Linked DNA regions of Homo sapiens. The protein of the gene in region 4 purifies or fractionates together with the protein of the main gene of each other region. This does not show direct contact. Each region holds a gene or a part of one and is shown on either strand. Other genes may lie near its edges.

The links.
Region 1: the proteins of HM13 (region 4) and ATP2B1 fractionate together in Homo sapiens (co-fractionation; one large-scale study listed by BioGRID). This does not show direct contact.
Region 2: the proteins of HM13 (region 4) and MGAT5 purify together in Homo sapiens (affinity purification with mass spectrometry; one large-scale study listed by BioGRID and IntAct). This does not show direct contact.
Region 3: the proteins of HM13 (region 4) and ODR4 purify together in Homo sapiens (affinity purification with mass spectrometry; one large-scale study listed by BioGRID and IntAct). This does not show direct contact.
Region 5: the proteins of HM13 (region 4) and CLPTM1 purify together in Homo sapiens (affinity purification with mass spectrometry; one large-scale study listed by BioGRID and IntAct). This does not show direct contact.
Region 6: the proteins of HM13 (region 4) and VKORC1L1 purify together in Homo sapiens (affinity purification with mass spectrometry; one large-scale study listed by BioGRID and IntAct). This does not show direct contact.
Region 7: the proteins of HM13 (region 4) and CMTM6 purify together in Homo sapiens (affinity purification with mass spectrometry; one large-scale study listed by BioGRID and IntAct). This does not show direct contact.

What each region holds. Positions count from the first base shown.
Region 1 is NC_000012.12:89,586,847-89,591,043, reverse strand, and holds the end of ATP2B1 (plasma membrane calcium-transporting ATPase 1), read left to right. Parts: coding exon 1-60; 3' UTR 61-2,995; downstream 2,996-4,197. UniProt on the Homo sapiens protein: Catalyzes the hydrolysis of ATP coupled with the transport of calcium from the cytoplasm to the extracellular space thereby maintaining intracellular calcium homeostasis.
Region 2 is NC_000002.12:134,340,281-134,344,832, reverse strand, and holds part of MGAT5 (alpha-1,6-mannosylglycoprotein 6-beta-N-acetylglucosaminyltransferase A), read right to left. Parts: intron 3,244-4,552; coding exon 3,074-3,243; intron 1-3,073. UniProt on the Homo sapiens protein: Catalyzes the addition of N-acetylglucosamine (GlcNAc) in beta 1-6 linkage to the alpha-linked mannose of biantennary N-linked oligosaccharides.
Region 3 is NC_000001.11:186,381,729-186,386,280, reverse strand, and holds part of ODR4 (protein odr-4 homolog), read right to left. Parts: intron 3,260-4,552; coding exon 3,125-3,259; intron 294-3,124; coding exon 198-293; intron 1-197. UniProt on the Homo sapiens protein: May play a role in the trafficking of a subset of G-protein coupled receptors.
Region 4 is NC_000020.11:31,562,317-31,566,868, reverse strand, and holds part of HM13 (signal peptide peptidase), read right to left. Parts: intron 660-4,552; coding exon 574-659; intron 1-573. UniProt on the Homo sapiens protein: Catalyzes intramembrane proteolysis of signal peptides that have been removed from precursors of secretory and membrane proteins, resulting in the release of the fragment from the ER membrane into the cytoplasm.
Region 5 is NC_000019.10:44,957,767-44,962,318, forward strand, and holds part of CLPTM1 (putative lipid scramblase CLPTM1), read left to right. Parts: intron 1-4,196; coding exon 4,197-4,309; intron 4,310-4,552. UniProt on the Homo sapiens protein: Involved in GABAergic but not glutamatergic transmission. Binds and traps GABAA receptors in the endoplasmic reticulum (ER).
Region 6 is NC_000007.14:65,945,768-65,950,319, forward strand, and holds part of VKORC1L1 (vitamin K epoxide reductase complex subunit 1-like protein 1), read left to right. Parts: intron 1-2,903; coding exon 2,904-3,013; intron 3,014-4,552. UniProt on the Homo sapiens protein: Involved in vitamin K metabolism. Can reduce inactive vitamin K 2,3-epoxide to active vitamin K, and may contribute to vitamin K-mediated protection against oxidative stress.
Region 7 is NC_000003.12:32,492,430-32,496,981, reverse strand, and holds part of CMTM6 (CKLF-like MARVEL transmembrane domain-containing protein 6), read left to right. Parts: intron 1-4,552. UniProt on the Homo sapiens protein: Master regulator of recycling and plasma membrane expression of PD-L1/CD274, an immune inhibitory ligand critical for immune tolerance to self and antitumor immunity.

The DNA.
Region 1 (4,197 bases), on a different chromosome or scaffold from region 4:
AAGTCTGCTACCTCTTCATCCCCAGGAAGCCCACTACATAGTTTGGAAACATCACTCTGATTGTAAGCTGAATGTTAACACACTAGCTGCATTGTAAAGAAACAAATTGAAACTGGGTCTTTTCACATATTGTGATGGACAAGCTAGTATTCTTGTCTTTGGACTTCAACAGAAGACACACTTGTACGAATGTAGATTTATTTTTTTAAAAAAAAAAAAGCAAAGCTTTCTGCCAGACTGAGGGTGCTTTTTGGGGGGTGGGAGAAATGAACTGACAGATAAACAGTAACTCAGCGTAAGTGACCTGTGGATCATCAGTAGTACCCAAGCATGGTCCTGAACAGTGTATTAGCAGAGCTTTAGTTTATCTCAGTCCTGGATGGGAGAGAGAGGGAGGAGTAAAACTGGGCAAGACAAAGAGCCCTGGATCGTTGAATTGATAGTTTAATTTCTGCTGTTGGCTGTTAATAATTTGGATTATTTATGTTTATAAATGATACAGATCTGTTTACAAGGTTTGTAGATACTTTTTTTGTTCCTGTTCATAGATGGGAAGCTTCCTTATAACTGATGCAGAGAAAAATTAGTCCTTCAAATACTGCTGTATTTTCAGGAAAAAAAAAAAAAGGGGTGTTTCTATTGAAACTGTACTAAATTTTTGCCTACAATTTACCTTGTTAAATATTGTAGATAAATTGCTAATACTAATAGCCAAATAGATAACACTAATGCTTTGTTTAAAAAAACGAAAAAAACAAAACAAAACAAAAAAACATGAGCAGTGGTGTTCTAATGAAGTTATGACATCTGTCCTAATTAGTTTCTTAAATACATTTACTACTTAATGGTTTTGAAGCAACTGTTTAATTTTTAAAATTTTTGAAAACTTGCTAATAACCTTTTGTTCAGAATTTAGTAGATTGTTTAATGCAGGACATCAACTACATAATGAAAGATGCTTGAAATGCTTTTGTTATTTCAGGCAAATCAAATTAAATCAGACTATCAAACTACAAGAGAACCTTAGTCTTTTTTGTTTTTGTCTAAACATGTTAGTTTAGTGATGTCTTGGTGAACTGTGAGTGAACTGTATTGATTTTTCTAATCTTTAGAGACCTTCACACAGCATGAGGGCTGTTGGCATTTTGAAAAAGGTTAATAAGTAGAAGCATACATGTTTTCCTTTTGTTTTTGAAACTTGTTTGTAAACATAAATAAATATGCCCTTTTATTAAATAAATTCATGGCAATGTTTTTTTAAAAGACATTTCAGCTTCTTTACTCAGTTCTGCATATACAGTGCATCAGTCTGTTCTCTTTGACCACAATTGGAATACATTTCAAGATGGTAACAGCCCCATGAAGTACCGCTTTAATTCCTTGCTGGTAATCTAATAGAATCAGATTAAGAAAATTAACACAATTTTACCATTTGACATACTCTTCATTGAATTTAGTTTGTCTAAAATAGTCTCACAGGTAAAAAACATAACAACAATGACCACCATTGTCTTTGATACATTTATTTTAATTCTTAAGTGGCCAAATAACAGATTAGGTAAAATGAGATTACATGAAAAGGTTCTAAAATGATATATTTAGATGCAATAATTAACCATATGCTAGAATGCCCACCTCTAAGCCAATTGGATTCTTTAGCTCTCTTTTTCTTTCCTTCATCTACCTTCTTCTCTTTTTTGCCTCTGTCTTTACCCTTTAGAAACTGGCATGTGTTAGGGCCCAGATTTCACCAGATACACAATCCTCAGGCTGACATAAAGTTTACGAGGACTGCTACTATAACTGAGAGTGCTGACCAAGCAAAGAAACATTTAGTTGATGGTGCTTGATATTTTTGGTGGGTGGGGGAAATCTTTTTCTCACCATCAAATCTTTGCAGTAATCCTCTGCAGGTCTTAGAAACACATTGGCTCTGTCAGCATTTGTAATTGTACATTTATTCATCAGGTATTTATAGTGAATCATACTGTAAAAAAGAGGTAGCATGATATGCTGGAAAGCATATTAGACTAGGAGTCAAGACCTGGTTTCTAGTCTTGGTTTTGCCATTAATGTGCTGCATGATCTTGGGAAAATCATTTACCCTAAATAAGGGTGGTGGACTATCTTGAAGAACCCTTTCAACTCTAAAAATTGACCCTATCAACTGGAGAGCCCACAAGGCATAGGGAATAGAGAAAAGGGAAATGTTTTCAGTTTTCTTTTTTATTTTGGTTATGCTTAAATATGAATGTAATTACCAAAAGATTTAGAAGTGCATGTGCTTTGGAGGATTTGTATTGAGCTTTTACAGTATTCATTTTTCAACTCAAGGCAATGGCTTTCTACACCAACTCTAATCCATAAACGGGTCTTATGACATCTATGAAGTAGTAGCAAGACATGCTTAGTGTGTATTTCTCTCTTTGAGACACTGTAATTTCTACCAGAAATTTCCAGAGCATTATGTAGGTAGAAAAAAATGCAAGCAAGCTGTTAAAGATCTTGGATCCCATTATATAGTATGTATAGCTGAAATCTGTAATTCAATCACTTTTTCTCTTTTATCCTCTAACCAAAAAATTGTTTAATTTTGCATCCCAAATGTTTTTAATCTTTGTATATTTTTTAAAAATCCTTTTCTCCTCATCATTGCCTTTTTTGTGGTTGTAAATAGACTTACTTGCACTTTGAAGATGAGTTACTCCTTGTCATCTTACAAATATGTGATATGGTAATTTTCATAACAGATGTCAGTTTTGAACCAAGAATTGGTGATTTGTTTATAAGAAAAAAACTGGCTTCATTTCTGTGAAATTGCTCTTTGAAAATTTCTTTTTACACGTGTAAGCCAACTGAGATACCGTGATGGTGTTGATTTCTTTCAATGATGCTTACCATCTATTTTAGCCACTGAGCCTTTTATTATTTGTCTATTTGTAAAGTTTATTTGTCTTAACTCATTTAATAAATATACTGTTTATCTGTTTCTGAATGGGGACTGAACTTTTTGGATATTGATATTGATTTGAAAATATTTTGGAATTTTTTCTACTTGAAATTTTAGAAATCTAATTGAAAATTCTATAATGTACTTGAAATGTTATGGTTGTGTTACAGTGAATCACTCTTCTAATAATATGCATGATCTTGCCTCTAAAATGAGAGTGGGTACATTGTCCCTACTCTCCAACCCACTGTCCTCAACCCTTATAGCACAATAGATCATTTCTGCAGTCTATGGGAATGTAATCTGCTGGTTTTAGTACAGATTAGTTTTTCACATTAGCTGTAAGAGCTTATTTTTATTTCATTATCCATACTTGTCAATACCAGTTATCTGAACTCTATGGTAAAAATTAATAAAATTATCCATAGTTGTTTTTTATAATAAGTTATTAATATAAACTAGCAACTTTGTTGAAATACTGAGTAAACTTTAAATGATGATGAATACCATATTTTTCAGTTAGTATAAATCATTAGTAAATTATTGAGTATACTTAAGTACCATATTTGTGACATGAAAGATATTTTCCATTTTGTCAAATTGGGTTTTATATATATATTATGTATTAGAATTGAATTTTGAATTAAGTTCTCTTTGTAAAAAATTAGCTGAGAAAGAAAGGGGAGTTTAAGCCTTTGCATGTTGACATTGTTCCTTCCCCGCGCCTTTAAGATTGTGTCTTATTGCAGCTGCCTTCTTTCTTTAACCTGTGCTACTCTAAGACTCTTATGCTCAAACCCCCATCAACTTTTATCTTTTTTAATTAGTCTGTTAACACTCATTTATAGACCAAAATAAAAGATATTATTAATAGCATAATTATACTACCTCACTAAAAATCTGAAAAATAATCTTTCTTTTAGAATAAGTGTTTTTATACCATAAAGACTGTTTCATGTGGTCAGGAAGTTGATAGTTGTGTTTCTGTACTTTTCTTCATCAGTATGTGTCACAAAAGCCAGGCATTGTGGCTCATGCCTGTAATCCCAGCAATTGGGGAGGCCAAGGCTGGACAATCATTTGAGACCATCCTGAGCAACAAAGCTAGATCCCCATCTCAACAACAACAACAACAACAAAAAAATATATATATATATCTAGTGGTGGTGCAAGGTGCAGGTAGTCGTAGATACCAGAGTGGCTGAGGTGAGAGGATCTCTTGAACCCGAGTTCAAGGCTGCAGTGAG
Region 2 (4,552 bases), on a different chromosome or scaffold from region 4:
AAATCCTTTTTAGAGATGACAGCATGGCCCTTTCAAATCTGCTACCTATATAAATTATTTCCATCCATTAAGGCCAACCCAGTACCCTGATTCTGACTCTTGCAAAAGCAAATGGTGGCATATAAACACAGTCTTTGAAATCAAGGAAGATATGGGTCTGACTCCATCACCACTATGTAGCAGCTGTGAGACCTTAAACAAGTTACCTAACCTCTCTCAATCTCTTTGCTCATCTTCCAGAAAACAAGGACTGGATACAAAGAACATTGGATACCAGTCTCTCAGGGGTTCTTCACAATGAGATATTGAAAAGAAAGTGCCTAATGAATACTAGATACTCAATAACTTAGTTTTCTCCCCCAGAGCCTGTTCTTACCGCTTAGCACCCTTACTAACCTTCCCCTCCCCTTTTTCTAAATGTCTTCAATTTCTAGCCTCTATAGTATTAACTTCTTTCTACCTGCCTCATACTGTTCCTTAACTTTTTCTCTTATGTCAAATTTTTCCTCCTCGCTTGACCATATTACAGAACTAGCACTATGGTTTACAGTTTTTTTTAATCACCCTTTCCCCCACCCATGCATCCATCCACACAAAACCATACTTGCGCTCAGAGCGTGACGATGTACTTGATTGGTAGGCCAACTTCATGTGTAGGAACGAGTCAGTGCTAACCCTACTGCCATCCACTCACTAATCAGTCACCACTGTTGCTTATCTGCAACACCCCATGATAATCCTTCACCAAATTATGGATATCCTGCTTCAAAGGACGAGAGTCACAAACAGGACTCTGCTTGACAGCTCTGTACTACCACCACATCAGCCACCCTTCTTCCTCTCCCCTGTTTATGAAAGAACTAGGTTCTGCAGAACCAGTTTCCTCCCAAGAGTCAGAAAACCCTTTCTGTTAAGGGCCAGACAGTGATTATCTTCATCTTTGCAGGCCATACATTTTCAGTCACAACTGGCCCATTCTCCCGTTGTGGAATGAAGACAGCTATATATGATACGTAAACAATAGGCATGGCTGTGTTCCCATGAAACTGTATTTACAAAAAAAGACAGAGGGCTGATTTGGCCTGCTGAGCCATAGTTTGCTGATCTCTGGTCCACCCCATGTTCAGTGTTTCCCAAACTTGTCTGTATAATGAAATTACCTGGAGGCATCACAAAATACTTATGGCTGTGTCCTACCCCCAAGGGTTGTGATCTAATTAGCCTATGGCATGGTCTATGGGATTTTTAAAAGATCCCCCAAAATTAAGAAATAAATACAAAGATCTCCAGGTGGTTCTAACGTACAGATATATTTAAAGACCACTGCTCTATACTGCTTCCACAATTATCTTCTTAAACAAAACACATCTAGCCCTGACCCCAGTGTGCATAAAGACTACTAGAATTAAGTCCTCACTTAACATCATCAATAGGTTCCTGAAAACTGGGACTTTAAACAAAACAACAGATAGCAGGCCCTCCAATAAAGTCATTTCCTTCAAATCACTGGTTATAATGTTGATGAAAAAAATTGGTTTCATTTTACATAATTTCATTTATAGTCCTAGTTTCCAAGAACCTATCAACGATGTTAAGTGAGGACATACTGAACAAATTTTCCCTTGACCATCAAATTCAGTCTCTGACTGATAAATCCCTAACATGTCTTTCCTGACCTCCCCAGGCAGTACTTGTCCCTGGTTCTACCACAGCACTCCATTTATTTACCTACCCACTCATTCATTCACCTATTTATTCCTTCACTCATTCATTCTATAAATAGTTATGTGAGTACTCATTACTTGCTAGGCACTATCTAGGTGCCCACTACACAGTGACAAACGATACTCAGTTTTCTGCAATCCCAGTGCTTACATTCTAGCATCCACGTACACCTCAATTAGCACCAATAGAATTGGAATTTGTGTAATTATTTTTAATATATTAGTTGTAATTATCAAAAGATTGGCAGCAAGATCTTTGACCACAAGCTGGCCATCTCTGTATGCCCGACACCAAAACTAGCCTACAGAAGACACCAGATGAGTGACTGCTAACTGTATAAATGCAGCCACTTTGTAGGTTGTGTATCCAATTTTTTTTTTTTTTTTTTAAGACAGAGACTTGCTCTGTCACTCAGGCTGGAGTGCAGTGGCATGATCTCGGCTCACTGCAGCCTCTGCCTCTCGAGTAGATGGGACTACAGGCATGGGCCACCACACCCGGTTAATTCTTGTATTTTTAGTACAGACAGGGTCTCACCATGTTGGCCAGGTTGTTCTTGAACCCCTGGCCTCAAGTGATCTACCTACCTTGGCCTCCCGAAGTGCTGGGAGCCACCATATATTGTTTTAACATGTCTCTCATCTCAATGAGCTCTAGAATGTTCATTCAAGGTATTCCTTCTGGAAATATACGACATATAGCAACATGGCAACTTGACTGTTGGGTGGGAAGTCTCCATGGGCAGTAATCCTAAGTGACTGCAGGGGATGGAAGCGTCCCTGCTCAGCCAGCTATGCCAATATAGAAGGGATTACAGGAGGGCTGGAGCTAGAAGCAAATTTCAGTGAAATGAAAAACCCAAGTAGAGTTAACAGACTCAGCTGAAAGTTGGCTAATTGAAAAAGGATCAGCTCAGGGCTTTCAGGAAATTTATTCTATCCAAATTGAATTACAAACAGGAACCTGCCCTGTTTCAAGATTTAGCAAGATTGATGTTGAGTAGGCAGTGGTATGAATTTCAGCAAGAGACAGGGAATTAGGAAAGTCAATAATGTTTTGTGCTCCAGATGTTGGAAGCACCTGTAATAGCAAAGAATAAGCTCCTTAGTTTGAATTTTCTGGCATTCATTTATGAAGCCTCTGGAGCCTTCAGCGACAATGAAAACATATTATCCTTTTCACAGTGTATGTATTTAGCTCCTGAAAATAATCTTCTTATCTCCTGTTTAGTGAATTATCACTTTCATTTTCCTCGACAAAAAATTATACACTAATAGAGGTAATACTTTAAGAGTTTACAATTTCTTTTTTGTATTCTGATTTTAAAATTGAAAAGTAATCTCCTTACTCCTTGAGCTCAGCCAGTGAAGCTGAAATCCTAATGTCATGGCCCAGTAAGTACAGAGATGTAATTAAATCACTCCATTGAACTAATTCACCAAGAGGGCCACCACTGAAAGCTGTCTCTGCAATCTTAAATCCAGATTCCTTGGTCAGGAGTCCCAGGTGAACGAGGACCTGGAAAACAAAGAGGCATATACTGATTCACACTGAACCACATACAAAAGGCACAGTAATGCGCCAAGAAATGATTGACCAATCCCAAAGTCATGTTTACATCCTAACAAAATCAAAGGGTGGGGAATGCTGTTTTTCTAGAAGGTACAAAGGAAGGAAATCATTTTTCATTGTGGTTTTAGAGAAACAAAATCACTGCAGCCCTTGGTATGGCTATGAGTACAAGGTATGGACAGATAATTCCACCTTTTAAAAGCACAGTGTATTTGTAAAATCGGGATTAAAGGAAGGTAAGACAGGACAGTATTTTCTAACACTATTGGTCTTTTATCTACAGCTAAAATACTTCTAACCTCTTACCATGGAAAATTTCAAACACATGGAAAGGCAAACATGACAATATAGTCAATGCCAAAGTAATTACTGTGTAGCTTCAACAATTATTAATGCATATTTAATCTATACCCCCATTTTCTCCCAACCCCTCTAGATTATCTCAAAACAAATTCTAGACATATCCTTTCATCTGTAAATATTTCGGTATGTATCCCTAAAAGGAACAAACCTTCACTTGAAAAATATAACTTGAACATCACTATTATCCCTAAAAAACCTAGTAATTCCTTAACATCATCTGATATCCAGTTAATATTCATACTTCTTCAACTGCCCTTTATTTTTTCTAAATGCACCTGTGTGATTCAAGAGTCAGAGAGCATACGTAATAATTGCCTCATATGTCTCTTGGCCTCATAGAAAACAATGTACAGGTGTCTCTGTCTTGGGATGTTAGCAGTCCTGGATGGTCACTAGCTAGATCCATTAATCCATTACGGACTGCAAAATGATGATATTTTACCATTCCTTCTTTGTTTATTAGCTGGAATAATACCTCTCTATAAAGAGAAACTACCCCTCATCAACCATTTGGTCACCCTGAGGTAACTCTAAGGTTTGTAAAGAAGGAGCCTGGTAAATACTTGATTCTTTCTCTTCATTTGCCAGTTTTTCAGAATAATAAACTTGTTCTTTAGCCTACTCTAATGATGATCTATGAGGATTTTTAATTTAAAAAATCATTATGACATCAAAGCATATTTGATATGCTTCAAAATATTGTGGATATTCCTCTCACTGACTATCCAATTGTCCCATCTAGGCCTGTGGTAGGCTATCCAAGCTGGCTCCTAAGTTCTTTTGACACGATCCTAGTCTTCTTTGACAGCTTCTCTGCACATGGGTAGACAGATGTGCCTGACAAGACTGTTGTAGGCTCAACAGGTACAACTTCTGTCTTGGACCTTAATAA
Region 3 (4,552 bases), on a different chromosome or scaffold from region 4:
AGTTTTTAAAAATATAAACATTTTTTACACTCAAGATATCCAAGCAATTGAGTGACAAAAGCTTTTTCAATGTAACCCCAACAAAAAGAATTATGGAAAACAAATGTAAATATGCCTAGAATCATTACACATACTCATAATCAGTAAAAATAACATATAACTGATTTCATTAAGAATTTTCGATATATCAAACTTACTCTACGCAGGGCATTTTGAAAATCATTTGCCAGTTCTAAAGTAGTAATAATAAATACTCCAAGAACTAAAAGTCCCCCTGGTAGCATTCTGGATACCTAAAAATAGAAATATATTATTAGCTAACAAATTGGCATTATATGCAATCCTTTCTGTTTGAGAAACTGTCTGCTTAGCATGTCCTTAGCTTTTCACCTTAAAACTACTTTATAAATAAAACTATCTGATAACAACATCCTTTAGCTACATCAATAAATAAATCCTTTTCTCAGGAGATCAAAGACTGAAATATTTTTTCAATGGCGTCCCACCATCAGCTAAATAAAATGAAGTTTTATTTTAGATTGATATTTCAGACTTTCTAGGATCTGGTCAATGATGTTTATACCCTCATTTGACACTACTTTTCCTCAAGTAATTCAAATATTTGTCAAAAACTACTTGAAAAGTAGTGTCAAATGAGGCTATAAACTGTTTTCCATACACATCCTAGGCTTTCTAACTATGTGTCTTTACTCAGGGTGTTCCCTAGGCCGAAACTGACTTTTTCTTATACTTCTGCATGTCTCAACCCTACTGGATACTTCAAAGGCAGCTTGAGGAAGCTGCCTTCTCTGATCTTTTCATCTCTGAACTCCGACAGGGCTTTGGTGTAGTTTTCCCATGGATTTTATCACATAGTCTTATATCATAGTTATCTGTGAACCCTACTAGTTGGTCAGGGAGCTCCTTAAGGGAATAAGTAATTCTACCTCTGTATCCCTATTTTTAGCAGCATACTAGATCTGGAATTTGAACAGAGGGAGTCTGACTTGAAAATCCATTATTTTCTATTGCATAGATTAACCTCAAATTTTTAAGCCCACTTACTGATACTGGGCATCTTTGCTATATCTAATTTTACCTTAAAATAATATTGATTAAAAATCCTAGTACATCTTTCTGCATTCATAGAATTATTTGTTTAGGACAAATCCCTTGAGGTGGATAACTGGTTTAAGAAGTTATACATATTTTTAAGGTTTTTGATACATACTACCATGATATCTCCATATCTGTATTTCCCTTCACATGATTGTGGCTAGTTCTTAATACCACATGGATTTTTTTCTATCATCTACACTCAGAGATTAGAGTGTTTTGGTTAGCTTTTGATTACTTAATGTACAAGCAATCAATCAGAGTACAGTCTTAGAAAATTAGGTACCATGCTCTAATCCTTAATCTACTTGCACTATGTCTTTCGGTGTTTTCCTCTGATTTAATAAATTCTATTTACTATAGTAGCACAATTCTGACAAATAAAGTTTTCATATTTAGCATAAGGAGCCTGCATATCTTTTCAAAATCACCAACACAAAAAAGTAACCATTTTTTAGGAGATGGAGGTGAGAGCAAGAAAGGGGAAAAAGTAAAATTAACCTTTTCTTTCTAGAGGTAAAAGGTTAAGCTAATTTACTATATAAATTCATTAATATTCTGTGTGTGTGTGTGTGTGTGTGTGTGTGTGTGTCATATACAATTTTATGAGAGACCAAAAGCAAAATTAGAGTAGAAAGTTATTTACAAACCATTGGGAATTTAACTTTACATTACTTAATATTTTCTTTAGAAGATAGTTGCCATGTTTGTCCCCTTAAACACCATGTTGAAATGTGAACCCAAGTGGGGCCTAATGGAAGGTGTTTGGGTCATGGGGCAGATCCCTCATTAATGGCTTGGTTCCATCCTCAGAGCAGTGAATGAGTTCTCGCTATATTTGTTCCTACGAGAGCTGGTTGTTAAAAAAAAAAGCCTAGCACCTCCCAACCCCTTGCTTCCTCTCTGGCCCAGTGATCTTTACACACCAGCTCCAATCTGCCTTCTGACATGAACAGAAGCAGCCTGAGGCTTTGACCAGATGCTCAATCTTGCAGCCAGCAGAATCATGAGCCAAACAGGCCTTTTTTTCTTTATAAATTACTCAGTCTTAGGTATTCCTTAATAGCCACCCAAACAGACTAAAACAATAATAATTAAATACTGGATTTCTTCGTTTTGTTTTGTTGAGACAGAGTCTCGCTTTGTCGCCCAGTCTGGAGTGCAATGGTGTGATCTTGGCTCATTGCAACCTCCGCCTCCCAGGTTCAAGCAATTCTCCTGCCTCAGCCTCCCAAGTAGCTGGGATTACAGGCACCTGCCACCACACCTGGCTAGTTTTTCATATTTTTACTAGAGACGGGGTTTCACCATGTTGGCCAGGCTGGTCTTGAACTCCTGACCTCAGGTGATCCACCCACCTTGGCCTCCCAAAGTGCTGGGATTACAGGCAAGATTTTATTTTTTTTTTAAATATAACTACACACTGCTCCATAATCAAACACATACACAGACACAAATATATGTCCATATATATATATATATATATCTACATACACAGAAACACGTTTGAGTTTAAAAGATTTAAAGATTTAAAGTTGATTGGAAAAGGAAATAAATCTTTTATTTATTAAAGAAAATTCTTTTTCTTAAAACAAACAAACAAAAACGCAGAATGTGCAAGTCTGTCACATAGGTTTACGTGTGCCATGGTGGCTTGCTGCACCTATTGACCTGTCCTCTAAGTTCCCTCCCCTCACCCCCAACCCCAGAAAAGGAAATAATTCTATTTTTACCTTATTCTAACATTATTTATTTGATGATATATAATTCATTCAATAAATACTTGTAAGTGAATTAATTTAGTCATTATTCCCACTCACCCATCCCAAATCTGTTTCTTCCTCGTGTAATGCCAACAGTATCCTCCTAGACACCCAGACTAAAAATCTCAGTCATCTTTAGCTACTTTCTCCCTATGTCTCTTCTCTCTACTCATTCACTAAATCTTCTTGATTCTAGCTCTTTTTTGAAATAAAACTTAAACATATAAACAAAAAAATAAGATAACCTGGCAGGCATGTTCTGTGGCCCATTCTTCATCCAAGTTATCCAACTTAGCTTTGGGATGTTTGAGGTTCTCACTTTGCTCCTCTTTGGGTGGCGTTCTAGTGGCAAGAATCACATAATCCTTTTGTGACGAACACTTCAACAACAAATTAAAAAGCTTGTTAGAGTGATATCTGATTCCTCAATCTAATTAGAGTGATACCTAAATTCCTTAGCTTTTATGACATGCAAAAACTGAGTAATATTTGTAACAGGTTAAATCATTAATACCCACATTATAATGGAAGCTAAAGGGAAGCTAATTTTCAAGGATGGCCTTACAATCTTTCCCTCACATGTTGTTTATCTTTTAATGTATTTAATATCAGCTTCTTATTTATTTGGACAACTCAAATGTAAATCATGGAGTGGTCCCTAAAAATGGTTTACTGGATGAGTGAATGAATTACATTAACTAAAAAGTAATATGCTTATTCAGTTTTCTAGTTATATTTGTTTTATAAGTTATAAATGAACAGATCGGAAAATATTAGTAAAATGAAACAACAAGTGACCTTTTGTATCTTATTTTAATTGAAATGATGACAGTAGGGAACTTCCACATACATTTCCACAGAATAACAAAGGGGATTTGGGACACAATTTAAAGTGATACAGATTCTATGTTCCTCAAGTTTTTTGTTTTGTTTTGTTTTTTGTTCTTTGTGTGTGTGTGTATTTATTTATTTATTTAGAGACAGGGTCTTGCTCTAATGCCCAGGCTGGAGTGCAGTGGTGTGATCATAGCTCACTGCAACCTTGCACTCCTGGGCTCAAGCAATCCTCCCCCCAAGTAGTCTCCCAAGTAGCTAGGACTACAGGCTCAAACAATCAGCCATAATGCCTGGCTTTTTTTTTTTTTTTTTTTTACTTTTTTGTAGAGACAGAGTCTTGCTATGTTGCCCAGGCTAGGTCAAACTCTGACCTTCAAGCAATCCTCCCACCTCGGCCTCCCAAAGCATTGGGATTACAGGCATGAGCCACCACACCCAATCTGTTCTTCAGCTGTAATATCAGTTAAGTAGTAACCAAAGTTGGGAGATCTAAAAATAAATGTAGGGGAACATTCAATAGCTCAGTTTCACTACAGTGAAAGTTTCCTATAAAAAAAGAGTGAAAATAACACTGCTAATGCAAGTTAGCATTGTATCTTCCCCACACATGACCTGAAACTCTGATCATTAGTATCATCTTGGGATAGAAAATAAGAGTAACTATTCCTACAGGTTATTTTCAGGAAGTTACATTCAAATAAACACAGGAAAAGAAAGTAGGTCTCAGTTAAGAAGGCTCCTCTTTTCTTCATAAAATGTATAACTTTGAAAAGAAAAAGAAACTGACAGAGACCAGGAAACAGGCAAGCTTAAGAGGAAGGAGAGGAAAAAGTAAT
Region 4 (4,552 bases):
ATGGGTGGGGCTGTGTGCAGGGTGTGGTAGGTGTGGATATGGCCCTGGGGAAGGGGTATCTGTGTGAGATACAGATATAGAGAAAGCAGTGAGCTGTGGGTTAAAGCCACAGAGGTGAATGAACAGGGACTGACACCTGCCTTCTACTCGGGGCACTTTCTACCACACTAGGGCATCCCACACGCCCCCTGTTCTATTACTCACATGTGAAAACTGAGGCCATGGGAGGGGAAGACATGCCTGAAGTCACCTGGGGGCAGAGTCACCTAGGACTTCTGACAGTAGGCAGAGAAAAATCCACAACAGCTATTCTTAAGATCCAGCTAACATTTGGATGGGGGATGCCTAGAGGGCTCTGATGCCTTGCGCTCCCCTGGCTCCTGGCCCAGGGTAAGGTTCCCACTGGTGTCCACAGGCCAGGTACCCATGTACTGCTGAAAAAGGCAAGGGGTGGGGCTGGTGGCAGGAACAATGTTCCCCTGGAGAGGTGTAAAGATACCCCCAGCAGGTTCCACTGACTGCCAGCAGGCACACTGGTGCCCATGAGGACATCTGCCCCCCACTCTGCCTTACCTGAACATCTCTGTCACTTCTCCCTTGGCCAGCGCCACCAGGACAGGAAAACCGATGCAGGCGGGGACCAGGTATAGGAGGGCAGGCTATGAGAGGACACAGGCTGGTGAAGCCATGCTGGGCACGGCACTGCCTCAGGGCCGTGCCCAGCACCCCAAACCCCTTCTGGGCTGGACTGAAGGACAGTGACTGGTCCAGGACCATAGCAAGTCAGTGGCTGGGCCTGAACCCAGGGCTCCTAACTCCCAGACAAGGGTTGCTCCTCCCGAGAGGGAATGCAAGAAAACTAAGAAACTCAAGTAGGCAGGGCTTCAAGGGTTCCCAGGGGTTTGGCTGGCAGCATCTGAATCACCTAGGTCACCAGGTTCAAAAAGCAACTTCCTGGTTTGGTCCTACTCCCAGAGACTCTGCTTCCTGAGGTCTGGGGCTCACACCTGCATTTTAGCAAATGCTCCAGGAGATGCTATTATAGTGATGATGACACCACAGCTGCTATGTAATAACTACTTGTTGCAGCCTGTATTAAGGTGACCTAGCTGGTCACTGGCTCCCCCAGGATTCACACCCAAGCAATTTGGCATGTCTGTGCTGAGACTCCTGGTAAAGCTGGGTTTGGAGAAAAGGACGGTTATACTAAGACCCTGTTCATGAACATCTACTGTGCAGGCACTGAGCTTAGCCTTCCCAGGAAGTCAGCCCACTGCCACATCCCATGATGGTTATCCTTTTGCAGAGGAGGAAGACCAATGCTTCACAAGGAGAGGGAAAATAGCCCAGGACTCAGAGACCCAAATCTTTTTTTTTTTTTTTTTTTGAGACAGAGTCTCTGACTCTTGTTGCCCAGGCTGGAGTGCAATGGTGCAATCTTGGCTCACTGCAACCTCCGCCTCCAGGGTTCAAGCGATTCTCCTGCCTCAGCCTCCTGAGTAGCTGGGACTACAGGTGCCTGCCACCACGCCTGGCTAATTTTTGTATTTTTACTAGAGATGGGGTTTCACCACGTTCGCCATGGTGGTCTCGAACTCCTGACCTCAGGTGATCCACCTGCCTCGGCCTCCCAAATTGCTGGGATTATAGGCCTGAGGCACCACGCCCAGCCCAAAGAGTTTCTTTCTTTTTTTTTTTTTTTTGAGATGGAGTCTGGCTCTGTCACCCAGGCTGGAGTGCAGTGGTGTGATCTTGGCTCACTGCAAGCTCTGCCTCCCAGGTTCACACCATTCTTCTGCCTTAGCCTCCGGAGTAGCTGGGACTACAGGTGCCTGCCACCATGCCCGGCTAATTTTTTTGTATTTTTAGTAGAGACAGGGTTTCACCGTGTTGGCCAGGATGGTCTCGATCTCTTGACCTTGTGATCTGCCTGCCTTGGCCTCCCAAAGTGCTGGGATTACAAGCGTGAGACACCGCGCCTGGCCGAGTTTCTTTTCTTTTCTTTTTTTTTTTTTTTGTGATTTTGAGATAGAGTCTTGCTCTGTCTCCCAGACTGGAGTGCAATGGTGCGATCTTGGCTCATTGCAACCTCCGCCTCCTGAGTAACTGGGATTACAGGCATGCGCCACCATGCCCGGCTAATATTTGTATTTTTCAGTAGAGATGCGGTTTCACCATGTTGGCCAGGCTGGTGCACTTGAGTTCTTTCACATGGAGTCAGGTCCCTTGCTACGTGCTCTGTAAGTCCCTCTAATTTCCCTCACAGCATTCCTCAGCAATTTTTTTTTTTTTGAGACAGGGTCTCACTTTGTCTCCCAGACGGAAGTGCAGTGATATGAACATGGCTCACTGTAGCCTTGACCTCCTGGGCTCAAGTGATCCTCTCGCCTCAGTCCTACAAGTTGCTGGGCCTACAGGTGTGCGCCTCCATGCCTGGCTAATTTTTGTATTTTTTGTAGAGACTGGTTGTCACCATTTTCCCCAGGCTGGTCTTGAACTCCTGAGCTCAAGTGATCCACCTGCTTTTGCCTCCCAACGTGCTGGGATTATGGGTGTGAGCCATCGTGCCTGGCCTCCCCAGCAATTTGTAATGGAACATCCCCATAGGTGGTGAGTTCAGTGAGGGCGGGCCCACAGCTGTCTTGCTCACCGTAGTGTGCCCTGCATACTGAAGAGGGCCTGGTAAATACTCAGTGAATGGCTCCTTCATGGTGCGTCTTCATGGGTGCTCATGAAGTGAAGAGATTGTCCTGGAGAGGGTGAGGAAACTTCATTCTTTTTTTTTTTTTTTCTGAGACAGAGTTTCCTTCTTGTTGCCCAGGCTGGAGTGCAGTGGTGCGATCTCGGCTCACTGCAACCTCCGCCTCTCAGTTCAAGCGATTCTCCTGCCTCAGCCTCCCAAGTAGCTGGGATTACAGGCATTCTCCACCAAGCCCGGCTAATTTTGTGTTTTTAGTAGAGATGGGGTTTCTCCATGTAGGTCAGGCTGGTCTCAAACTCCCGACCTCAGGTGATCCACCCACCTTGGCCTCCCAAAGTGCTGGGATTACAGGTGTGAGCCACCACGCCTGGCCGGAGACTTCATTCTTAACGTAAAGCCAGCCCTTGGCCAGAGAACAAAGAAGTCTTTCCCGCATGCCCTTGATCCTAACATTCAGACTTATTTCTTGCCATCTGTCATAGGTGGGCTGTGATCAATACTGCTTTATGTATATTAAATTATTGAATCTAACAATCCCTAAGTAGGATGGGTGTGGTGGCTCACGCTTGTAATCCCAGCACTTTGGGAGGCTGAGGTGGGCAGGTCAGTTGAGGTCAGGAGTTTGAAACCAGACTGGCCAACATGGTGATACCCTGTCTCTACTAAAAATATAAAAATCAGCTGGGTGTGGTGGTGCACGCCTGTAATCCCAGCTACTTGGGAGGCTGAGGCAGGAGAATTGCTTGAGCCCAGGAGGCGGAGCTCCAATGAGCTGAGATCACACCACTGCACAAAGGCAGAGGTGACCCTTACCTAGACCAATGCTAGCACTGGGACTACCTGTGTGTTGGAGAGCAGGGGACCCCATGGGACAGGGTCCCCTCATGTCCTGGATCCCCTTTCCAAGGATTTTCAGAGAGGTACCCACTTGGATGACTGGGGAGAAGGGCTGGGCTGCTGCTGGGGAGTAACACAGGCCTTGGGGCAGGGTTCAGGAGTTCATTAGTCTGGAGTCCAGATCGCCACCCAGGGCCCAGCCTGATGTAGTGTTCGCGTTCTCTCAGCGCTGCAGTTTTCCGATAAAGGAGAGGACTCCTGTGTGCCAGAGCTCTGAATGGGAGCCTCTTCTCAGTCCAGCCAGGCAGAGGGTGAGGCTGCCACCTTATGGCCACTGGGGGAATTGGCTCTGGGCTTGGACTCCAATAAGGGGCCGGGAGCTGCAGAGACCTCCAAAAGGTCTCTTAACTAGTCCTCCAAACCAGGTCCAGTCACTCTCTGTGACCCTTGCCATACGCATGTTACTCTCACCTTACACGCCATTGAAGCCCTTGAGCAGAAGTGAGAGGCAGTTCCACAATGGTTGTTCTTGGTTTTTCTAATTATGGGCTAGGGGCCTTTTGACCTTCTATAAAGTAATACTGTACTAGGACTAAATGAGTTATTAGCAAAAGAGTTTAGCACAGTGCCTGGCACAGAGTGATTAAAAAAACCCCAGCTTTTGTGATTAATTCAAAGATGGCTCGTCTGTATTTGGGCCCTGGGGAAGGGGAAAGGGGACAGAAGCAGCAAGCCCAGAGTTCCATGGTTACTGGGTGGTGCTGGGATTCACAACAGGGCTCCCTTAGCCCCTGTTCAATGCTGCGTTTCCCATGGCCAGGGCTTGAGAGCCTGGGTGTGGTTTCCATGCTGACCCAGGTTTGAATCCTGGCTTTACCACATACTTGCAGTGTGTCACCTGAACTCCAGTTTCCCCACCTGTTCACAAGGATCCTCATGAGTGCAGAGCCTGACATGTGGAAGTGCTTAACAAACAGGAGCTCTTATTATTTCCAGTAGAAAGTAGGGCAATCC
Region 5 (4,552 bases), on a different chromosome or scaffold from region 4:
AGCCTGCTCCTGTAGCCAGGAACTCGGACACAGAACCCACAGCTTTGCCATTCCTTCCTTCAGCGAATGCGAATTGAGTCTACTCCATGCTAGGCCTTTGCTGATGCTGGAGATACAGCTGTGAATAAAATAGGTGCTGCCCTCTTGAAGGCCCTTACACTTATGTTCTAGTTGGAGCTGAATTTATAGGGGAAGCACAGACAGGGACACACAGTGAACAAGATAAATAAGAAAAACAGCAGTTCAGATGGCTCTGCGTGCCATGGACAGAAATAAAGCTGGGATGGGGATAGGAAGTGAGGGGTGGGTAGAAGAGTTGCAATTAAATAGGGTAGTCTAGAAGGCCTCTCTGAGGAGGTGACGCTTGAACAAAGACCTGAAGGAAGTGAGAGAGGGAGTCCCAAAGATACACGAGGGAAAAGCTTTTCAGGCAAAGGAGCAGCCAGTGCGAAGGCCCTAAAGTGGGAGGTGCCTGGTGTGATGAAGGAAGGGCGAGGAGGCTGGAGCGGGTGAGGGGAGAGGGGTGGCTGGGGACAGATGCAGATTATGCCAAGCTTTGGAGGCCATGGGGAGGACTTGGCCTTTACTCTGAGGGAAATAGGAGCTGAAAAGAGTGACTCTTTTTTTTTTTTTCTTTTTTCTGAGACGGAGTCTCGCTTTCTCACCACAATCTCGGCTCACTGCAACCTCCGTCTCCTGGGTTCAGGCAATTCTTCTACCTCAGCCTCTCAAGTAGCTGGGATTACAAGCACCTGCCACCACACCCAGCTAATTTTTGTATTTTTAGTAGAGACAGGGTTTCACCAGGTTGGCCAGGCTGGTCTTGAACTCCTGACCTCAGGTGATCTGCCCACCTCGGCCTCCCAAAGTGCTGGGATTTCAGGCGTGAGCCACCACGTCCAGCCTTGTGGTATAATTTAGATGGTATAACGTTCACCTGTTCTTAGGATAGAGTCCATTGGCTCCTGGTCCATTTATGCAGTTGTGTGGTGCAGCCATCACCACAGTCTGGTCTGAGAAAGCTTCTGTCCCCTCAAAAAGTTCCCTTTTACAGTCTCTGCTGCTCCCAATCCTAGGCAGCCACAGAGGTGCTATCTCTGTAATTTTCTAAAAATGTCTTAAACAAGGATCTAAACAACATCCAGTCTTTTGTGTCCAGCTTCTTTCATTGGGCATAATGGGTTTGAGGTTCATGTTGTTACATAGATCTGCAGTTGTTCATTTTTATTTTATTTTTTACAACCTAGGATCAGGGAAATTTGGCCTTTGGGGAAATCCTAAAGTACGTGCTCACAGTTGTTCCTTTTCACTGCTCAGTGGTAGTCTGCAGACATGACACAGTTTATTCTTTCAGTCCTTGAAGGATATTTGGATTGTTTTTAGTTTTTGTCTGTTGCCAATAATGCTGCTATGAACATTCATGTACAGGCTTTTCTGTGGCTGTATTTTGTTTCTTTTTTTTTTTTTCTAAGTAAGAGAGACAGGGTCTCCCTGTGTTGCTCAGGCTGGTCTCGAACTCCTGGGCTCAATGGATCCTCCTGCCTTGGCCTCCCAAAGTGCTAGGATTATAGGCATGAGCCACCACACCTGGCCACTGTTTGTTTTTGAGACAGAGTCATGCTCTGTCGCCTAGGCTGGAGTGCAGTGGTGTGATCCTGGTTCACTGTAGCCTCATTCTCCAAGGCTCAATTGATCCTCCCGTCTCAGCCTCCTGAGTAGCTGGGACCACAGGCATGCACTACCACACCTGGCTAATTTTTGTATTTTTATAGAGATGAGGTCTTGCTGTGTTGCCCAGGCTGGTCTTGAACTCCTGGGCTCAAGCAGTCTTCCTGCCTTGGCCTCCTGAAGTTCTGGGATTATAGGCGTGAGCCACTGCGCCTGGTCTGGCTTCATGTTTTCTGCCTCCTGGGTAGCCATTCAGGATGGGTTTGCTGGATTGTGTAGTAGGTGCACATATGACTTGTTCAATAACTGCCATATTTTCCGAAGTAGCTGTACTTTTACTTTCCCCCCTAGCAGCATACGAGGGTTCCTGTTTTTCCACATCCCTGCCAGCACTTGTGATTGTCTTTCTGCTGATAGCCATCCTAATAGGTGTGAAGTGACACCTCATTGTGGTTTTAACTTGCCTTTCCGTGGGAAGGTTCCCAGCCAGATTGCCCATCACTAACGGGTAAGCGAAGAGACCTGGGAGTCAGTCAGATGCAGCTTCAAATCCTGACCTGGCATCAAGTGTCCTTTCCTGACCCCAAATCAGCTCAGACCCATTGAAACCCATACTTGGACCCCTAAATTTCCCAATAGCTAGGCTGGCCTTGAGGAGGGGGCCTTGTGCCTGTCTGATTTCCCTTCCCCAGCCGACCCCCGCCCCATAGATCTCCTCATCAGAATGTGGCTTTCTCTGTCTCAGCCTAAGGGTCTCACCCAGACGACCCAGACGTCAAAGGGAGCTCCTCAGGGAGGCCTCTCTGACCACCCACTCCAAAGTGGATCCCTGTTCCCAACTCAGTTGCTGTCACTTCCCCCTGCTTGTTTTCCATGTACCATTTTTAATTATCCTGTTTACCGTTCTAGTGTGTTTCCTTCTAGATCCCCAGCTCTGGGTAAGCAGGGCCCAGATTTCTGTCTAAAATGTTCCAGTATTTTCACAACCTGGTCCACAGGTCAGAGAGGTGAAGTGATGTGCCCAAGGTGTCACAGCCAAGAACGGTGGGACCAGGACTATAGCTGAGGTCTGTTTGACCCTGGAGCCCCTCCAATGGTGTCCTGTGCTTTGGGAGATTACAGGAAAGAGCTCTTGCTGGTGAAGGGGACAGGAGGTGACAAGTGACACATTTAACACATGTAGCCCCTCTAACCATGCTCCTGGGACATTTGCTATCTGGTGGGTAAGGTGAATGGAGAAAACATTGCAGAGGAGTGGACTAGGGGCTGTGGAGGAGAGGGCCAGACACTGGAGCCTCAGAGGGAAGTGGGTTTGGGTGACCTGAGCGTCCGGGGTGAGTCCTTCAGGCAGCGGTGGCCACACAGGTGTTTATCACAGCCTTGCTCTGTGCCACTGGTGCTCTTGAGCTAACTGTGACTGTGATAGCCCTGGTCCTGCCTCTTGAAGGCTGATGGCTGAGGGGACAGCTGGGAGGAGGGGTGAATGAGAACAGGACTGGGGAGCTAGCAGGGTGCGTGAAGGGTGAGCAGAACATCCCCTTCCAAACCTGGCATTCAGAGAGTCTCTGATTGTGACCTTCTGTGTCTGAGTGAAGAGTCCTCCTCTGGGAAGCCGTGCCTGGCTCCCTTGCCTGCCCCCCTTCCCTTCTGTCATTCTGCTTCTGCGGTCCTTCCTGAGTGACCAGACAAGTGGCTTCACCTCTCTGAGCCTCCCTTTGCTCAGCAGCCGGATGGAGCTGGTCATAGTTTTGGCCTCAGGATTAGTGTGCTGTGTGCTGTCACAGACATGTCTTGTGGCCGTGGCTTATGGTAGCAGCTGATAGTCTGGTTGTGTTTTTCTGTGTCTGTCCCACCTGCTGGACCAGGGGCCCTTGGAGGGCAGGGTTGGCCACAGAGGGGGCCTCAGGAATGGTTTGCCCAGGGAAGGCTCTTTCAGCTAAGCCCCAGCCTTGAAGAATCTGGCACCTGCCATAAGACTCCTTCTGTTGTTGTCCCCAATAGCCACCTCCTTGCATCCTGGCTCCAGCCCCAGGGAACAGTGGACAGTCATCAGAATCAGACTGTGCCTCTAATCTTCTGTTTCTGCACCTGCTGCTTCTCTCACTTCCTCCTTTGTGCCACCAACTTGCTATGTTTTAGGTCTCAGCTTCAATGCCCCCTTCTCCAGGAAGTTGCCCCGAACCCTAGACTGGACCAGGTGCCTCTCAGGGCTCCTGCATTCCTGCCCCGTTCTGGACAGTCACTGTCTAGAGATGAATCTTTCTCCCCCACCGGGCTGTTAAACCCCAGGAGGACAGCAAAAGACTCTCTAGGTCACCACTGTCCCTAGGTCACAGAGGTGCTCTGCGAGTGTTTTCCTCCTAAAAGAAGAGGACCGCACCTTCCCAGGTGTTTTCACTGATTCATTCTCCAGTTATTGATAAGCACCCACTCTTTGCCCAGCCTGTGCCTGGCCTTCATGCATGATGGTGTCTAAGACAGCCCCCGTGTCCATTCTCCCTCCTTACCCTGGCCTCTGTCCCCCACAGGTGACCAGCAATGGCAGCATCGGGAGGGACCCGCCAGCGGAGACCCAGCCTCAGAACCCACCGGCCCAGCCGGCACCCAATGCCTGGCAGGTCATCAAAGGTGTGCTGTTTAGGTGAGCAGACGGGACTTGGGTTTGTTCACCGAAAACATTCAAATAAAAATAAGGAAGAAAGGAAAAGTCAGCTGATCAGCTGAGGATGGTGATCATTACTGTATGGTAGAGTTGCTTTTTTTCTTTTTTTTTTTGTATGATGGAATGTTTTCTAAACCTTTTTTTTACTCTGGTAAAACATACTGAAGTAGGGAGTCTCCCTGAACCTGTTCTGGTTTTTGGGGGGCTACCTGATTTGTGAAA
Region 6 (4,552 bases), on a different chromosome or scaffold from region 4:
TATTCATTTGTGGATTGCCACATTGTTTTCGAGGAAAATACCCATGTGATCTTACATGAATAATCAGGCATAGACCAGTGCTTTGAATATATAAAAATTCTGTTTAGCCATGATAATTTTGGCAGTATGCCATTTATTTCTGTTGCCAAAGGCAGTGATTTAAATTGGAATTCCTGCCTGGGATGAGTAGGGCTAAGAGGTTTGATTACATATAGTTTCCCCATCTGTACTCTGGCCTCCAGCAGTTTGTTCTTTATGCAGCAGCGAAGAGTGATCATAAATAAGCTTATCTCACTCTCCAGTTTGAAAGCTACTAAACGTCTTTCATAGCAATTAGAATAAAATTCAAACTCTTCGGCATGGCCTACACACAAGGCCCTAAATAATGTAAATGATTGGACTCGCTCCCAGTTCTCCTGTCACTCTCCTCAATCACCATGCCCCAGCCTCAGTGGCCTTCCTTGGCACACCCACAGCTCATTCCTACCTCAAGGCCTTTGACTTGCCATTGCTCATGAGACCGATTGCTTACCATCACTCAGGATCTCATTCAAAACTTCATTCCTGGAAAAGGTCCTTCCCGACCATCAAGCTAGAGGAGCTTGCTGCACCCCTTCTCTGCCCACAGCTATGGATCTCCAAGTGTGGGCTTCAGACCAGAAGCGTCAGTGTTGCCTGCAAGCATTTCATTTTGTGTTGTGTTTTCTCTGGAAATGCAGAGTCTTAGGCCCCACCACAGACCCACTGAAGGAACAGCTACATTTTAACCAGACCCCAGAGTGATTGTGCTTTAAAAATTTCAGAAGCACTGATCTAGAGTTTCCCCTTCTAATTTTCCTGTGTATCTGTTACAAGGTGTGTCCATTGCTGCAGGTAATCTGGCATTTGTTTACCTGTTTATTATTTCTCTTCCCTAAATAGAATTTAAGGTCCACAAGGGCAGCACCTCGTCTGGCTCGTTCACTTCTGGATCCCCGGCACGTAGCGTCAGTGCACACAGTACATGCTCAATAAGTATTTAGATGAGTGAAAGAATAAATGAATATAATGGAAATTATTTTATGTTCTTTGAAATGTATAACTGAAGGCTGGGTGTCATAGCTCAGCCTGTAATCCCAGCACTTTGGGAGGCCAAGGTGGGAGGATTGCTTGAGTCCAGTACTTCAAGACCAGCCTTGGCACATGGCAAAGCTGCAACTCTATAAAAAAATACCAAAAAAAAAATATATATATATAGCTGGGTGTGGTAGTCTCAGCTACTTCGGGAGGCTGAGGCAGGAGAATCACTTGAACCTCGGAGGTCAAGGCTGCAGTGAGTCATGATTGCAACTGCACTGTAGCCTGGGCAACAGAGGAACATCCTGTCTCAAAAAAACAAAACAAAACAAAACAAACAAAAAGGATTGCATAATTCTACAATAAAAATCTTCATGGCTTTCACTTGTTTGTAAAATCGGGGTGATTTTTCTCTCCCAACATCATCGTTATACAGGGGTTTCATTCTATATCTTGGGCATCAAGTGCTATTAAACTATTGTGGCCTGTGAAGAATTACTTATTTATCCTTGCTTTGGGGCAGTTTGTCTTCAGAACCAAAGTTTAGATTTTGTTTAGACTGATTCTCTACTGACTTAACACCATAACTGGTTTTTTTTTTTTTTTTTAGTATTTAAGAAGCACTCTCGTTCAATCCAGAGTTAACATTATCTTTAAAGGTTTTTTATTCAAAATGAATGTTTGATATTTGTATCAAGTTTTATCAAATAAGTTAACAATTTAAAAAAAATCAGGTTTTAAAAATGTTAAGTCAAATGCAAGATTTAAAGTTAAATTGCAAATAAAAACTGATAGGGCATATAATGTATCCAGTTTTTTACATCTGAGATAGGATTCCAGGAAAGACCTATAGTTTCTGATATTATCCTGCATTTTTTTTTTTTGAAATGGAGTTTTGCTCTTGTTGCCCAGGCTGGAGTGCAGTGGTGCAGTCTCGGCCCACTGCAACCTCTGCTTCCAGGGTTCAAGTGATTCTCCTGCCTTAGTCTCCCAACTAGCTGGGATTACAGGTGCACACCACCATGTCCGGCTAATTTTTTGTATTTTGAGTAGAGACGGGTTTCACCATGCTGGCCAGCCTGGTCTCGAACTCTTGACCTTGTGATCTGCTCGCCTCGGCCTCCCAAGGTGGTGGGATTATAGGTGTGATCCACGGGCCCGGCCCTACATTTAAAAAATACATTCCCAGTATATTTCTTAATGCATATCCTGGTGAAATTTGTGAAGAAACAACTTTTCAATCTATATTCTTTGAGTGAATAAATAGCACAACTTACATTCTATGGTTTTCAACTGGGGGCAGTCGTGTCCCAGCGGATGTTTGGCAATGGCTGTGACTGCATTTTTGGTAGTCACACCTGGGATGGAGGAGTACTGGCAGCATCTAGTTGGGGGAGCTCTGGGGTACTGTTAGTTATGTAATGCACAGAACACCCCACAGCACAAAGAATTATCTAGCCCAAAATGTCAGTAGTCCACTGTTAAGAGACAGTGGACAACTGTCTCCTTCTGCATAGAGAAGTCTCCTTCTGCAAATACTAATGCCATTGGAAAACGAATACTTTGCCCTACCTTCTGGAGAAGAGAATATATAGAAATTGGCAACTGAGAGATTCAGATGGGTATACTGGCACCTTTAGATATGTTCATTTTAGATGATTATTTCTAATCAGAAATCTAGTGACTGGCCTCCCTCTCTTTGGGGCAAATCACTCTCTCAACACAGGACATTTAAGACATTTCACAACTTAGTTGATTTTAGAATTGGATAACGTTCTCAAATAATGATACATTTTTTAAAATAGGGAAATTCAAATATAGGGTTACTGGTTTTCCTTATTTTACAGATGGGGTCGAGGATTTGGTCTTTTGGGTTCCATTTTTGGAAAGGATGGTGTATTAAACCAGCCAAACAGTGTCTTTGGACTTATATTTTATATACTACAGTTATTACTTGGTAAGTATTTATCAATACAAAAATAAGTTTGTTATATTCCGTTTAGTACTTTGTGTCTTTGCCCTGAAGTGTCTTGATGTTAAAGCATGTGTTATTTATAGAACCACTAGCGTGTACAACATTTTTGTGTTATGAAAACTTGATTCACTGAGATTTTTATTATATTATTGTTGAATTTATGTCAATTGCTGTTTAATCATGGAGAGCAGTATCTCATGATGTCCAGAAAAACCAGTCCCATTCCAGGAAATTATCACTCCCATCTTCCCTGTTAACGTTTTTCCTTATTTTATAGACTCAGTGGCCTTGAAAAATATCATATATTAAGGGGACATTAACAAGAAACCATATTCATAATCCCATTACCTTTACATATCCACTATTTCCACAGTCTTCTGCTTTTAAAAATAATTTTTGGGCTGGGTGCGGTGGTGCACACCTGTAATCCCAGCACTTAGGGAGGCCAAGATAGGCAGATCATCTGAGGTTGGGAGTTCGAGACCAGCCTGGCCAACATAAAGAAACCCTGTCTCTACTAAAAATACAAAATTAGCTGGGCGAGGTGGTGCATGCCTGTAATCCCAGCTACTCATGAGGCTGAGGCTGGAGAGTCACTTGAACCCGGGAGACGGAGGTTGTAGTGAGCTGAGATCGCGCCATTGCACTCCAGCCTGGGCAACAAGAGCGAAACTCCGTCTCACAAAAAAGAAATAAATAATAATAATAATAATAACTTGGGGCCAGGTGCAGTGGCTCACACCTGTAATCCTAGGACTTTGGGAGGCCGAGAAGGGCAGATTACTTGAGCCCAGGAGCAACATGGTGAGACTCTGTCTCTGTAGAAAATACAAAAATTAGCCAGGTGTGGTGGCACACACCTGTAGTCCCAGCTACTTGAAAGGCTGAGGTGAGAGAATCACTTGAGTCCAAGAGATGGAGGTTGCAGGGAGCCGAGATCACACCACTGCACTCCAGCCTGGGGGTCAGAGCAAGACGCTGTCTCAAAAACTAATAATTTAATGTGAACTGTGTTTCAACATAGTGTCGTTTATCCTAAGTGTTATTGTTAACATCTAGGTTTCACTCCTTTTACTTCCAAATAATGCTGCAGTGATCAACTTTGTTTAAAGACCTCCTGCTCCTTCCTTCCTTTGAATTATCTCCACAAAATAAATTTCCAAGCATAGTATCAAAAAACACAGATATTTTCAATTTTAATCAGTGTTACCAATTTGCTTTTCCCTCAGTTCTTTGGTTTCCCTGAAGCTCCAGCGGTCTTTATTTTTAAGACATGCTTTGTAAAATTTCTTTTTTTTTTAATTGTAACGATAATCTTCACCTGGAAAAATTGCTAATAGTTACACATTAGTACCTATTACTTTAATTTTTACTCTTTTTAATTTCCTTTTATTGCCCATTTAGCATTTAGTTATTGGATCCCGATACTAGTACATTTTTATATGTGTTACAAACATTTTATGCATTCTTTATCCTTTTTTGTTAGTGTTATGAATTTGTATTGTATTAAGTTTTTATACT
Region 7 (4,552 bases), on a different chromosome or scaffold from region 4:
TCCTGTTTTCTAACCTACTAAACCAGACAGGTGTTCCCTCCTGCCTTCATCTAAACATCCATATTCCCTTGCATGATCATCACACAACCACACCCAACTCCTAAACCATTTTTTTCTTCATCCCCATCCAGTTAGGTCAGTTGCCTTATTATCATTTTTGGATTTACTATGCAAATTCTTGCCCTTATGAATATGTTCTTTTTCATCCTCCACCTAGAATTAGAATGTCCTCTGTCTATCCAGGTTCTGTTTGTGTCTCTGCCTGGTTTGAGTCCTGCTTTTCCACTCATCCTTCTCCGGCTCCTTCGAACATTTTCTTGAGATTTTCTAACCTACATATAATGAATGCTCAGTTAATGTGGTATAAAATATATTGTTATTATTGTTTCTTGTACATTGAGCTTATTACTCCATCATTTGTATCTTCCTATACGTAGAACAGTGTTGGAGTGTTGCTAGTTCAAGTACACTTTGAGCTAGCAATTGCATAATGCTGTGGGAGCTTACAAAGGTTAGTAGCCTCAGAGATGGGTAGGCAGAGAATTTTTTTTCTTTTTTTTTTGGTAGAGATGGGGTTTCACCATGTTGCCCAGGCTGGTCTCAAACTCCTGAGTCCAAGCAATCCTCCCGCCTTGGCTTCCTAAAGTGCTGGGATTACAGATGTGAGCCATCGCATCTGGCCGACAGAATTTCATATTGACTATAGCTTGTAGTGCCAATTTGTTGGCCTTTAACTTGAGATGGGAGCTAGTAAATGTCCACACTTTTTTTTTTTTTTTTTTTGAGATAGTCTCGCTTTGTCACCCAGGCTGGAGTGTAGTAGCGCCATCTTGGCTCACTGGAACCTCTGCCTCCTGGGTTCAAGCAATTCTCATGCTTCAGCCACCCAAGTAGCTGGGATTACAGGCATGCGCCACCATGCCCAGCTAATTTTTCTATTTTTAGTAGAGATGGGGTTTTGCCATGTTGGCCAGGCTGGTCTTGAACCAGGTTGGCCAGAAGGCCTCAAGTGATCTGCCCGCCTTGGCCTCCCAGAGTGCTGGGATTACAGGTGTGAGCCACTGTGCCCTGCCAGATGTCCATACTTAATATTGTACTCCTTGATTCTCTTAAGATGTCCAGGCAGAACCTGCTTCCTGCTATTGCTCTGAGGCAATAGGTCAGTAAGGTCAGTAGGAATGCCACCTGTTAATACGTTTGGAATAGGACTTGTAATGACTTGAGACTGACTGCTTCTGGACAAGCTGGATCCTGTCTTTTTTTACTGAAAGTAGACAAGCAGCCTATGTCTGTCCTACAGATAACCTTTTATTGCCATATAGCCTTCACACATGAGTGTGCCTAATAGTCTAATTGTAAAATGAGTGGTTCAGCTATTCCCAGACCCTAATTAGAGTTTTAGGCTGGTATCTTCTCTCAGTTAATTGACTTTTATACAACCGAGGTATATTTTGTAAATTTCTCAGAGAGAAACTTTTAAAACTTGGACAAGATTTAACATAGAGGCAAGAAAAAGGCAAGTGAAATGTTAGATATTTAGTATTTTATTAGACTATAGTCATGTTAGAACTCATCCTGTAAGTATGATTATAGGAGACTAAGGAAGTATCTTTACACAGTGGCCCTCTGGGATTTATCTTGGTGTTGTCACTTTATATCCTGTGGTGTAATGATTGGGAATGCCTTACCTAACACCTGTCTGAAGGAAGTTGTTTGGGACATGCTGGGCTATTTCATGCTTCACTAACTTACAGGAAATCAGAGAATGTAACCATTCATGTTACAATTAGACTATTTTTTTTCTTTTATATAAATTCTTTGCAGTTGTGGGGATGTATACATTTTGTATAGCCAGTAGAAGGGAGAGGAAATCCCTTAAAGGTTTGGATACCAGTATAGATTTGAATTACTATTTTTTAACTTTTTATTTTGAAATTATTATAGATTCACAGGAATTGCAAAAAAAAAAAGTACAGGGAGGTCCCACATTTGTATGTGCATGTGTGTGTAATTCTATGTAATTTTACCATGTGGATAGCTTTCTATAATTACCACCACAATCAAGACACAGAACTGTGCCATCAGCAGAGGCTTCCCTGTGCTACCCCTTTGTAGCCACACCTTTCCCCTTTCTCTTGGCTGCCACTAATTTGTTAGCCATCATTATTATTTTTATTATTCTAAGAATGGGCTATGAATGGAATCATGCAATATGTAACCTTTTGAGATTGGATTTTTTTTTTCCTTTGAATAATTCTCTGGAGATTCATCTAGGACATTACATATATCAAGTTTGCTCCTTTTTATTGCTAATATTCCATGGTATGGATGTACCACAGTTTGTTTTAACCATTGGACATCTGGAATGTTTCTAGTTTGGGGCTACTATGAATAAAATTGTTATAAACATTCACGTACCGGTTTTTGTACAAATGTTAAGTTTTCATTTCTCTGAGATAGTTGCCCAAGAGTTCTATTTCTGGGTCATATGGTAGATATATGCTTAGTTTTTAAAGAAACCGCTGAACTGTTGTTTGTCCCTTTTTAATGAAAATGTTTTGTAGGATAAGATATTTACTATTACTATGAAATGTATCTGTTGATTTTGGTAGCAATCTTGTTGCCATTAACCTGTCTGGTTGCTTCTACTGGCCTGACTGGAGTGAGAAGGGAATTCCCTTTAGCCTCTGACTTAGGTCATCAGTCATTTTGATGGTTTCGGCCCTCAGCAGGAAATTCCCTCAGCTTCCACAAAACCCACACAAACTGCCCAAGCAAAATACTCTTCTTCACTCTCTTCCCTTCTATTTCTAGAGAAGAGTTAGCCCCAAACCTGAGCCCTGAATCCTATCTTTAGAGAGCCATTTTTCTACCTATGTCTTTAGACCCACCCATCTTACTGGTTTCTGCCTAAGTATTTAAACATGCTCAGTTCTCCCATGTTGAAATTCCCTTCTCTTTGACCTCATCCACTACTGCCCTATCTGGCCATTCTTTCCCAGCCACACTTATTGCCTATGCTGTCTCTCCTTCACTGCCTTACCCTCCCCTTACTTCCCAATATACAGTATTGTAATCGAGCTTCTCTCCCTGACTACCCTGGAACTTTTCTTGCTAATGTCACTGGCAACCTTCTTATAGCTCAGTCTAAGGTAGGTGTTTCAGTGTTGTTCTTACTTGACCTTTAAGTAGCATTTAGCACTCTTGATTACTTGTGTGTTTGTGCATGTGTGTGTAAATACTTTTTTCTTGTTTACTACCCCTTTGATTGCTGCTGCTAGTTGTCCTTTGCTGGTTTCTTCCCCTCTGCATATCCCGTAAATCTTCAGATTCCTCAGATTTCCACATAAGGCTATCTTTCCTCATTTGAGTCATCTCACCCTCCCACTCTGCCAGCTCCCACATCTTTATCTGCATCTTAGACCTCTCCTTTGAGCTCCAGACCTTATATTCATTTGCTTTCCAACTACATCTTCACCAAACTCTTCCACAGACCTCCTCAATCACAGCATATTTAAAACTGAATTTCTTCTCTCCCTAGCACCCTTGCCTTTTAAAAAGAAAAAAACCTGACTCTTTTTTCAGTGAGGACCAGTATGTTAGTACCACATATACAGCAGTTGGAAGTAGTTAAAACCCACTTGCGTGTAATTGAGTTGCCAATTTAACCAGAGTTAACATTCTCCACTCACCATACCAAGCATCCTGACCTCACACCAGTCACCCACAGCCTGCCATGGCCAGTAGGCATCTCATTAGCACTCTAGAACTCTTGCTTCTGTCATCAGTTGAGTTGTGTTGTTCCCATACTGGTTTATGCTAACTATACTTTTATGGCCATACAGTTAAATATTACAAAGCTGAAACTGAGTGTTAAAATGAATTGTTTCTTTAAAACTAAATTGAATGCTTTGGAAAGACTGAAAGATAACTTACTACAAGATTTATCTGCCATGGAATTAAGGAAGAGCAAGGCAACTGTAAAAGGCTGGTAAAATAGTCTGACTCTAGAAAGATTCTGAACTCTGTTTCTCAAGTGTTTAAGATCTCACTTCACTTCAGATAACATCAGTCTGGAAGTAGTAGTCCATAGATGATGAAAGTGATTAATGCAGAAAACATGTGGAATTCGTCAGTAGACCCATAAAGAAAATACTCACTTCAGCAGATTGTTAATAAATGTGCGTTTTTAAGTTAAAATGTTTAAGGTACACATGTGTTATCTTGTGTTCCATATTATTTGTATGCATCTTGTCTGATATGAGCTTTTGCATCTTGTCTGATAAGAGCTTCTGCTGCATCTCTCAGTGATTGCCACTCTTCTCTATTGCTGCTCCCTAGTCGCTATTATTTGCCCTGATTTCCTACATCAGCTTCCCAGTTGGATGTCCGCCCCAAGGTTTGCCTTACCTCTGGTCCCTTCTCCATATTGTAGCCAGTGAGAACTACTGAAAGCATACACCTGATCATTGTCAACCTTTACTTTAAAATCCAGACTCTTAATTAACGAGGACATTTAGATCTGGCCTCAGCTTACCTCTCTAGCCTCATA